4 separate regions of the Homo sapiens genome follow, and all the other regions are linked to region 4. The links come from fine-mapping of genetic effects on gene expression. A gene starts in region 4. Each other region holds a variant in brackets. All regions are shown on one strand. Distances are between the middles of the regions. Region 1 overlaps SLC22A14 (solute carrier family 22 member 14). Region 2 overlaps DLEC1 (DLEC1 cilia and flagella associated protein). Region 3 overlaps OXSR1 (oxidative stress responsive kinase 1). Region 4 holds the start of OXSR1 (oxidative stress responsive kinase 1).

Region 1 (2,687 bases), 120 kb after region 4:
CACAACACAAAATTTAACATCTTAACCATTGTTAAGTGCACAGTTCAGTGGCATTAAGTAATTCACATCATTGTGCAACCCTCACTACCATCCATCTCCGGAACGATTTCATTTTCCCAAGCTGAAATTCTGTACCTACTACATAATAACTCCCCTTTTCCTCCTCCCTCAGTCCCTGGTAACCACCATTCTACTTTCTGTGTCTATGAATTTGACTAGGTACCTCATATAAGTGTAATCATACATGTCCTTTTGTGATTTGGTATTTCACTTAGCAGAATGTTTTCAAGGTTCATTCATACTGTAACATGTATTATAATTTTATTCATTTTTAAGGCTGATCTATATTCCATTGTATGTATACACCACACTTTCTTTATCCATTCATCCATCCATGGACATTTGTGTTGCTTCCACCTTTTGTCTATTGTGAACAATGCTGCTGTGAACATGGGTGTACAAATCTGTTTGAGCTCCTGCTTTCAATTCTTTTGTGTATGTACCCAGAATTAGATTGTTGGATCAAATGGTACTCCTATTTTTAATTTTTTTAGGGACCATCATACTGTTTTCCATGGTGGCTACACCCTTTTACATTCCAATACAAAAGGGTTCGAATTTCTCCACATCCTCACCAATATTTGTTTCCTTTTCTTTTAAAAAATTAATAATTGTCATCCTAATGGGTGTCTTGTACATATTTTGTTAGGTTGTTTCTAATCTATATTTCAATATTATAAATGGTATCTTTTAAAGTTTCCCATTTAAAAAAATCATGTTAGTTTGAAATGATTAAAAAAATTAATAATAGTCATCCTAATGGGTGTCTTGTATGTATTTTGTTAGATTGTTCCTAATCTATATTTCAATATTAAAAATGGTATCTTTTAAAGTTTCCCGTTTTTAAAAATCGTCTTAGTTTGAAATGATTTTAGGGTTTTAACAAAAGTTGTGAGACTGGGCACAGTGGCTCATACCAGTAATCCCAGAACTTTGGGAGACCAAGATGGGAGGATCACTCGAGGCCAGAAGTTCAAGACCATCCTGGGCAACAAAGTGAGACCTGATCTCTACAAAAAATAAAAAAATTAGCCCTGCATGGTGGCACACACCTATAGACATAGCTTCTCTGAAGGCTGAGACAGAAGGCACACCTAAGCCCGGGAGTTCAGCTGCAGTGAGCTATGATTGTGCCACTGCAATCCAACCTGGGTGACAGAGTGTGACTCTATCTCTACAAAAAAAAAAAAAAAAAAAAAAAAATTGCAAAAAAATGAACACAGACTTCCCATTCCTTCCACACCCAGATTCCCCTAATGTTGGCATCTTACTTATCTAACCCAGAAAATTAACACTGACATGATACTATTAACTAATCTATAGACCTAACTTGAACTTGGCCAGTTCTCCCACTAACATTCTTTTCCCAGTCTGAGATCCAATCCAGGATCCCACACTGTGATTCGTTGTCATGTTGTTACCCAGGGGGTCCTTGCTTCCAGAGCTCCCAAGATGGTGGCGGGCTGCTTCCAAGATGGCAGCAAGCCTCTTGTTCTCTGACCTGGGGTTCTTGGCCTCAAGGATTCTAAGGAATGGAATCTTGGGCCATGCGGTGAATGTTATAGCTCTATTAG[A/C]AGCTGTGGGTCACGGAAGAGAACCATGAAACCCAGCTACTAGTGTTCAGCTCGATTAGGATGAACCCAGGCACTTAGCCATGCGGGAACAATGGCAAGCCTTTAGCCCGATCCGGAGTGGCAATGGGCGCCTCACTGGATCAGGAGCAGAGCAGACACCCTGCCAGATCCGGAGGGGTGGAAGTCAGCGGCGGGTCTGCAACAGCGACAAACAGCAGTGGTGGACGGCAAGCGAAAACTTAGCTTGAGCTGTAACAAATATGGACCAGAAGAGTGTGCAATTGCAAGATTTTATACAGTGAAAACAGAGCTCCCATACAAAGGGAGGGGACCCAAAGGGGGTAGCTGTTGCTGGCTTGAATGCCTGGGTTTATATCCTGATCATTGTCCCTCCTGCTGTGCTCTCAGGCAATAGATGATTGGCTATTTCTTTACCTCCTGTTTTTGCCTAATTAGCATTTTAGTGAGCTCTCCTTACTATCTGATTAGTCGGGTGTGAGCTAAGTTGCAAGCCCTATGTTTAAAGGTGGATATGGTCACCTTCCCAGATAGGCTTAGGGATTCTTAGTTGGCCTGGGAAATCCAGCTAGTCCTGTCTCTCAGTTCTCCCTCTCAACAGGAAAACTCAAGTGCTGTTGGGGAGGTTGGCCAATGACTGCTCTAACTGCTTCCTGCGGAATTGGGGCGTAGTAGGGGTCATGCAGTTGAGATTTCCTTGGGAGGGGCGCCTTCGATGTCATCAACATTGGAGCGTGGGCTAGCAGGCCAGTCCAGGGGTCCGTGGTAGATCTTAGTCATGGACTGCATCTGGGGCTCCATTTGAAGATCGATTTGTAGTTTTACAGCTTTGATTCTGGAAGAGACAAACTTAACAAAGAGGTTAAAGAGACAGGGATTGAAATGTATGGCCTGCAGTGTAGGGGATTATTTCTTTGGCACACTTTACAGGCCCTGACTATCTGCTTGACAGTTTTTAAAAGGCCTAGTCCAGTAAACAATAATTTGGCCATCTGATGGGTGCTATCAATGCCTAAGTGAAAGGTTTGGTGAAGG
Region 2 (2,687 bases), 75 kb before region 4:
AACTGCTTGCATGCTTGCATTTGTCTCTGTTTTCATGACTCAAGTGTCCAGTCCCATCCCATATCACAGCCTTAGTGACTTCTGGGTAGACGCATATTCTTGCATTCTGTAGGGTGATGTCAGATGTCATTTGACTGTCTTATGAGCATTTTCACAAAGCAAATGCAGATAGCCCTAGCATCACATCACAAACCTGAGCCTTGCTAGTCCACACCTTTAGTCTGGGAGCTACCTCCACCAATGTCCAAGCTGCCTCCAAGATCTTCGCTTGGTTCTTCAGTCTCTCTTGGGTCTTCCCTCCCCCAGGCCCCTCTATCATCTGGTACCTGATTATTGCGGTTATTGTGGCTTTGTTCTCACTTTCCTGCTTCATCCTCAGTTTGTATAGTCAGCAAGGCCCAACTCCGTTACGCCTCATCCTGAACCTCTGCAGAAGCTCTCAGTGGTCTGCCCCTGGCTGTGGGCGTCTCCTTTCCTAACTGGCCCCTTTTGCTGCCCCCTTCAGCTGATCACACCTGCTTGCTGGTCCCCAGAGGTGCCCATGAGAAATGGTGATACTTCCTGTCCCTGTTGCAGCACACTGCCACTCTCCCCGACTCCTGGTCTAGGAGTCTGACTCCACTTCATGTGACTGGGTGTGGGCTGCTACAGACATGCTTGGCCTTTCACACTAGCCTGCCGAGGGAGGCCCCTGACATTCAGGAGCAAAAACCGTCTGGCTTCTGGGGGTGGATTTGGCCTGTGCCATATCACCAGGTAGTGAGATCCAGCAGCCCTTATTCTTAAACTCAGCTGCACATTGCAATCACCTGAGAGACCTGGAAACAACACCAAGGCCCTATCCCTGAGGTTCTGAGTTCACTAGACTGGGCTGTGGCCTGGGTGCCGGACTTCTAAAGTCCCCCAGGGAATGCTGGTGTGCAGCCAAGTTGGAGTTCAACTGCCACAGCGACTCTGCCATGCTGTCAGGAAGGGCTTCCTCTTATCAGCTGCTTTCTAGTTTCAAGTGCCCAGTAGGTTCTGCAGCCCTAGGATGTGGCTCTCTTATTCATGTCCCTGCTCATCTGATCCCTGATGAGAAACTAGTTCTTGGGATTGAGACTGAGCCAGTTCAGGGGCTTTGTCAGGCCTCATCTACTGCTGAGGGGCAGGTTGGGTCTACAAGGCCCATACACAGGCCAGGTTCTCTGTTCTCTTGGTGTAGTCCAGGACTTGTCACAGGCTCATCGAAGCTTTAAGGAATTGGAGCTGCTCTGCCCTGGACATCCCCCTCATCCCATCCTCCTGGGATCTCCAAGTAAAGGAAGAGGGTAGCAGCAGGACTCTTAGGGGAGCAGTGAGGGAGCTGGGGAAGGCTTTCCCCTTGGCATTTCTTGCGTATTTTGTTTACTGATTGTTTGGGGGTTTGTCTGTTCCAAAATGTATTCATAGTTCCAAATAAGAAATACATTTGCATGATTAAAAATTCAAAAGAGAGACTGGGTGCAGTGGCTCAGGTCTGTACTCCTAGCACTTTGGGAGGCTAAAGCAAGAGAAC[T/G]GCTGAGTCTGGGAGTTAAAGACCAGCCTGGGCAACATAGTGATATACTGTCTGTATAGACAATTTTTAAAGTAAAAAATAAATTCAAAAGAGCCAGGTGTAGTGGCTCACACCTATAATCTCAACACTTTGGGAGGTCAAGATAGGAGGATCACTTGAGGCCAGGAGTTTGAGTTTACAGTGAACTGTGATTGAGCCACTGTACTCCAGCCTGGGCAACAGAGTGAAACCCTGTCCTAAAAATAAATAAATAAAAATAAAACATTCAAAAGATGTAAACAGGTAAACAGTGAAATGCTCCCTTTCACCCCAGTTCCTCAGCCATCCAGAGGCCATACCTGGCCAGTTTTCTGAATGCCCTTCCAGAGATAGTCTATGCCCAAATAAGCAACTGCACATGTTTTTACCCCCATTTTTTTCTTCACACACAAAGTTGCCCACTCTATACTCTGTTCTTTGCCTTGTGTTTTCTACTTAACTCTATATCTTAGAGATCATTCTCATATGTTTTAGTAACTGCATAGTATCCTACTGTGTGAATGGACCATAATTTAGTTCAGCAGTCTCCTGCTGATTGACCTGAAGATTTTTTTCTGATCTCTGGCTACAAATTATGTATAAATTATACATACATCACTCTGTCCAAGGATGAGTCTACCCACAGGATACAGTCCTTGAAGTAGATTTGCTGATCCAGCGCTTTGTGCCCTCATAATTGTAAGGCATGTTGCCAAAATCCTTACCATGCGGATTGTACCAATTTATACTTTCAACAGCAGTATGTAAGGGTGTCTGTTTCTTTACACCTTTGCCAATACAGTATATTATAAAACTTAGAAACTGTTCATGGACGTTGTATATAAAAACATATACAAAAATAGAGAGAATAATGATCATCCATGTATTCATTACTCATCTTCAACAATTATCAACCCTTGGCCAATCTTATTACATCTATACCCCTCCATTTCCCTCAGACATTCCCCACCCTGCTCTTCTAGATTATTTTGAACAAAATCAAGACAAAATATCATTGCATTTAACAGAATGAAACTAGACCTGTGTCTCTCACCATATACAAAAATTAACTTATTAATAAAATGGATTAAAGATTTAAATATAAGACTTGAAAATGTAAAACTACTAGAAG
Region 3 (2,670 bases), 90 kb after region 4:
TCTCTGTGTGCTGAAGCTAACTCAAGATGGAAAGTGAAACCACATGTGCCGTGACCTTTAGGTTTTATGAGTAGACAGTGTTCATTTGATTTTCTACAGAAATAATATAAATTATTCTTTAGGTTTAAAAAAGAGCACTCATAATGCAATATGTGAATAATCAGTGAGGTTGATTTTTCTTTTTTCCTACCGTTTCATAGTCTTTGTCTAACTGCTAGTAACCCTACCGAGTTTTATATATGAGTGGGATACTCAATCTGGCCTTAAAAAGATACACAAAGATGGGCTGTGGGTCCCTGGAAAGGGGGAGAGTTGCCCTTTACAGAATCACTCGAGCCCTTTCCAGCACTGTTGGTCTGATGAACAAGGTTGTTTTACCTTATTTTCTCTTGGAACATATCTGAAAACCTTCCCCACAAATAACTTGTCACACCTTTTGTTTCATTCTGAGTCTTTAGTTTTAGTCATGGGCTTTCTTCACCTGCTCTAGGTGCAAAGGCATGTTGGGAAAGAGATGGATGTTGGGGAGGAAGAGAGGAGATGGATTTCAGTTGGGAGTTAGGAGGAGAGTAGGTGAGATGATCAGACACCGGAGTTCAACGTCCCAGCAGTCTTGGTAAAAGGAGGGAGCCTGCTGAGCCAGGAGGGAGAAAAGAAGATTGACCAGCTTGCTAGAAAAATACTTAGCTTTTCTTTTTCTTTTTTTGTGGAGGGGGGACGGAGAGGAACAAGGATGGGGAGGTAGGAATGAGGTATAGAAAAGAGATAGCATCTTCTTTGGCACAAGACTAGTGGCTTACCGCTTACCTTAGAGTTTTGTTTTTTTTTTTTCAAACCCATCAAAATCTACTTATTTATGAATCCAAGGGGTGGCAGCATCACTCTGTTCTAGCATTCTTTGTGGAGATGGTCTGGTGCCTAGCTGGGAGTGAGCAGCAGCCCATCCCCTGTTCACTTTCTCTAGCCCATCATTACCTGTGAACTGCAGTGGGGCAGTCATGGCAAATAGAATTGGGCTGGGGTTTCTCCTTCTTTTCAGTTCATTGTTTGCCCTGCTAGGAATTAGAAGACAGACACCATGTCCCAGGACAGTGTTACTTCTTCTGCATGATGTGTGGTAGACTCCCTTTGCTGGCTTGTGCAGTGATACTGAGAAAATACATGAACAGAAACTGCCCAGGTGGAACAGCACGTAACCTAGTGAGTGACTGTACTCCTTTCTAGGAATGCTGATTCAGAGTGCACCTCTTTGACTAGGTCCCAGGATCCCCTTGTCCCTGGAGTAGGGACTAACTATAGCACAAAGTAATATGTGCCAATGCTATTTGTGAAATGTTTGGTCTTTCTAAACGACTAAAGGATTTGTTGGGTTTTTGCTTAAGTTTTGAACCAAATCCTAGAGCCAGCTGATAATATTTAATAATCT[G/A]GAGGAGAGAATAATGATGTACCAATAAGTGGAGATTCCTCCTTATGATGTATGCTAGGTTATGGAAGATGTAAAATATTCAACTTTTTCCTCCTTTTTTTGGACTTTGTATTTTACTGCATGTTTTCTTCATTTTTAATCAATAAAGAGTAAATTGTCCTTAGTGGTGTATGGACGCTTTATTTTAGTGGCCGTTGGCGGAGAGCTGTGGGTTGTGGGTCAAGGAATCACCACCAACTTTAATTGTTCATGCGAATAGAAGCCAAAGTACATATAAACTGTAAAGTGTGTCTGTTGATCTACAAATTATCTAGAACCATTAAAGCCATTATATAGTTGGGGAAACTGCAACCCTAAAAGGGAGGGATGAGATCAGCCCAAGGAATTGGATAGGATGGGATATGGAACTCCTTTTATTATCTTTTGATCTTTTTTAAATCTTTGGTTTTGCTTATGCTGTTGGGCAAGGAAGGATGCCAGATTCAAGCCCTTGGGAGTCTCTTTCGAAAGTTCAGAACAGGGCTGAACTTATCTCTTCTTGGCTTTGATATTGCAATGGTGAAGTTACATGTAAGATTCTAGGCTCCTTTGTATTCCTGTTATCCTCCCACTGCAGGAGGAATCTTCCCTCATCATCTGCCCTTCCCAACAGCAGTGGCTTTTGATCCATGATAACACTGCTTGTGGGTCCTGGTATTTCAGAGCTCAGGGCTGTGGAGCCTTGGAGTTGACAATACTGTTTGGCCTACAGCTAGTTGAGTTTGCTTTCAAGATAAGCAAGTTATAAAAGTGGAATCAAACTATTGTGGGGATAGGAAGGAGGTGCTTGTTACTCATAAGTGACCATGGTATATCTGGAGGGAAGGGAAGGGGTCAAGGGCAAATTGAGCTTCCACTTGCCCATTCTTTCTGACAAGATCAGGTTGTATCACTAGGCTTGGTTCCTTAGCTTTATTTGTTTGGCAGCAATACTCAGTGCATCCATTCAGGGATTCCCCCTTTGGGTCAGGTCATCTACCCCAAGGTTTTTTTTTTTTTCTTTAATGGACTTTAATTTTTAGAGCAGTTTTAGTTTCACAATAAAATTGAGTAGAAATTACAGAGTTCCCACACACCTCCTAACTCCACCCACAAACAGCCTCCACTACTGTCAACATCCCCCACTAGAGTAGTACATTTGATACAATTGAGTGTACATTGACACACTATTATCACCCAAAGTCCATAGTTTACATTAGGGTTCA
Region 4 (2,687 bases):
TTTGGTGGGGGTCTGGGTTTCTAAAAAACAACTCAGGGACATGTGTTGATGTTATCTTTAGTTTTTATAGGGAACCAAACATCCAGTTATTTTAGTTTCTTTGGCTAATGTTTAAAGTTATTACTGCCCTCTTGCTTATCAAGGGGTTCATTAACTTTTCAAGGCTAGCTAAGTGCCGGGAATTTCTCTTGAAGTAACTCAAGATTTTCCTTTATTTCCATGGTTGAGGGCCTGCAGGCCCTAAAAGGGGTCCCTGCTCCGTCTCAGCTGGGCCTAGGTGAAGGTCTCTTCCTTTTTCTGAGACGGTGTCTCCGTCTGTTGCCCAGACTGGAGTGCAGTGGCATGCTCTCGGGTCACTGCAACCTTCGCCTCCTGCTTCAGCCTCCCTAGTAGCTGGGATTACAGGCGCCAGCCACCACGCCCAGCGATTTTTCTGTATTTTAGTAGAGAGGGAGTTTCACCATGTTGGTCAGGATGGTCTCGAACTCCTGACCTCAGGTGGTCCGCCCGCCTCCGCCTCCCAAAGTGTTGGGATTACAGGCGTGAGCCACCGCACCCGGCCTAAGGTCTCTTCCTTAAAGACTGCCGTTGGACTGAAAGGTGTCCAACCTAGAACAGTTTCGCACCTAGCCCTATCCCTGTTGGATGCTCATTATTTTTTAAAATCCAATTTACCAAGCGTGTTCAGTCTTCAGCTCGCTAATTTCTCTAACGGCCGTACGTAGTCAAACTGAGAAAACTGTTCAGTGGGGGCGACAAAAGCCAACGCCCGTGAGACAACCCCCAAATCCGTGGGTCGATCTCACTTGTTTAATACCCCAAGCCCTGTCCGGGGGGAAGAAAGACAACCTCCCGAGTCCCTCAAGGCAGGTGCTTATTTGAGCTTCAGATCTAAAGCTGCGAATGGACAGAACCCGCCCAGTGCAGGGTGGACCCGCGAGAGACAGCGCCGCGACAAGCGTTAGAGAGAACGTCCGCCTTGAAAAAAATGTCACCAGGCAAACTTCCAGTTTCACTCCGACCAGTGGCCCAAGGCCTTTTATCCTAGTTGGCAGTGGTCCACACCCAAAGGCTACCCCACCCAGCCGCTCCCTCAGGGTTTCTCCACACCCTGTAGAGCCTTTCGCACGTCTCGAGGGTGTGACGGTTACGCCGTGACGTCACTCCAGAGGAAGTGGTAAGACGAGCGCGGTAACGGAGCTCTTGAAGGGCTGCAGCCCTAACACGGAGAAGCGCGCTAAGAGCCTGGAGGCGGGACCAATTTATGACTGACGTCTACCCACACCCATTGCTTTTCTGATTCCTTCTCAAACAAACCAATGAATGCGACGACGGAGACAGCAGCGTGCCCCAGGCGCTAGAAGTGGCTCTGCCCCTTCTACTTTGCTGCCCTTTGGTCGCCATGCTTAGTGTGGCTACTGCCTCTGTGCTACTTGAGGCTCTCCTACGGCTTTTCGATGCCTTCGATGAACCTCTACCTAAGCACTTCTTCCCTTTCACCGCGAACTCCTACCTTCTCGGGTTTCTAGCTTGCTCACTTTACATCCAGCCACACTGGAGATGGCGGCCGGAGGCGGGCCCGAGGTGGGGCGTGACCAGCGCAGTGACGTCAGCGCGCTGCGTGTCGGCAGGTGGAGGAAGAGGGGAAAGTTTGGCCCGTGCGTGGGGCTGGGGTGGAGGGCGGGACAGAGGGGCTGGGCCCAGGCAAAGCTTCTGTCGCTGCTGCTGCGGAGGCCGAGGACAGGACGTGGGCTGGGCCGGGCAGTGCCGGACTCGGAGGAGCAGGAGGCGAGGTCCGCCGGAGCTCTGAGCCCCCGCTGCTCTGCCGCGCGGTGACCCCGCGCCCCGGCGCCGTCCGACCCGTGGCTGTTCCGAGACGATTGGTGGGGGCGCGGCGGCGGCGGCGGCGGCTGTTGGGGGTGGGGAGACGCGCGGCGAGGAGACGAGCGAGGTCAGCGAGTTTGAGGGAGGACCGCGAGCCGCTGCCGCCGTCATGTCCGAGGACTCGAGCGCCCTGCCCTGGTCCATCAACAGGGACGATTACGAGCTGCAGGAGGTGATCGGTGAGAGCAGGCGCTGCGGAGGGGGGAGGCGCGGCGCTGGGAGGCGGGGGACACGGGAACGTGGGGAGCCGCGGGAGCTCGGGGAGCGCAGCCCTCATAGGAATTCGTGGGGCGCTTGTGGGGCTGGGGGCTTGTAGGACGCTTGTGTCGAGGAGCGCGTGTGAGACGGGAAGGGGGTTTTGAGGCGCGCGCCTGTGAGGTGGCGTGGGGTGGGGTGAGGCTTGAGGGGGCTCAGGAGAGATTTGTGTACAGGATTCTCAAATGTGTGGACAGGAGCGGCCCATGTGTCTTGTAGAGAAAGAAAGTGCAGGTGTGGGACAGGCCTTTCCGAGGCTGTGTGAGAAATGGGATCTTGAAGTGGGCACAGCCATCGATTTCTGGGATTGTGGGATAGATAGGGAGCTTTAAGTTTTTCCTCCATCCGTGCTGGGGCGAACTGGGGATCCTCCAGGTGAAGCTGCAGGAACCGCGCTGAGCAACCGAGACCCAACTTACGACTCCTTCCAACTGACTTTCCAGTCGGGGAGGTAGACATTAAATAAGAAGACAAAAAGAAGTAAGAAGGGCTGGGCGTGGTGGCTCACGCCTGTAATCCCACCACTTTGGGAGGCCGAGGCGGGCGGA

The links. PIP is the estimated chance that this variant, and not a neighbour inherited with it, causes the effect.
Region 1: its variant is fine-mapped to the expression of OXSR1 in esophagus muscle (GTEx, PIP 0.98).
Region 2: its variant is fine-mapped to the expression of OXSR1 in whole blood (TOPMed, PIP 0.98).
Region 3: its variant is fine-mapped to the expression of OXSR1 in whole blood (TOPMed, PIP 0.96).

What each region holds. Positions count from the first base shown.
Region 1 is chr3:38,287,943-38,290,629 of GRCh38, forward strand. All of the region lies in intron 1 of SLC22A14 (solute carrier family 22 member 14), which reads left to right. Among named protein-coding and RNA genes, the nearest start is that of SLC22A14, 7.0 kb to the left of the region's middle. The variant A/C (reference allele first, on the strand shown) is at 1,635.
Region 2 is chr3:38,088,421-38,091,107 of GRCh38, forward strand. The region is part of intron 10 of DLEC1 (DLEC1 cilia and flagella associated protein); the gene reads left to right. Among named protein-coding and RNA genes, the nearest start is that of ACAA1, 47 kb to the right of the region's middle. The variant T/G (reference allele first, on the strand shown) is at 1,538.
Region 3 is chr3:38,253,900-38,256,569 of GRCh38, forward strand. It overlaps OXSR1 (oxidative stress responsive kinase 1), which reads left to right. Exons shown (of 18, transcript NM_005109.3): 18 at 1-1,585. Among named protein-coding and RNA genes, the nearest start is that of SLC22A13, 11 kb to the right of the region's middle. The variant G/A (reference allele first, on the strand shown) is at 1,427.
Region 4 is chr3:38,163,884-38,166,570 of GRCh38, forward strand. OXSR1 (oxidative stress responsive kinase 1) reads left to right here and starts at 1,654. Exons shown (of 18, transcript NM_005109.3): 1 at 1,654-2,063. The coding sequence starts at 1,994. It overlaps LOC101928234 (a long non-coding RNA gene), which reads right to left and starts at 1,593. Exons shown (of 5, transcript XR_940733.2): 1 at 1,514-1,593. RefSeq lists enhancers at 329-1,528, 689-768, 919-1,048, 1,319-1,418, 1,812-2,427 and silencers at 1,659-2,048, 2,099-2,148.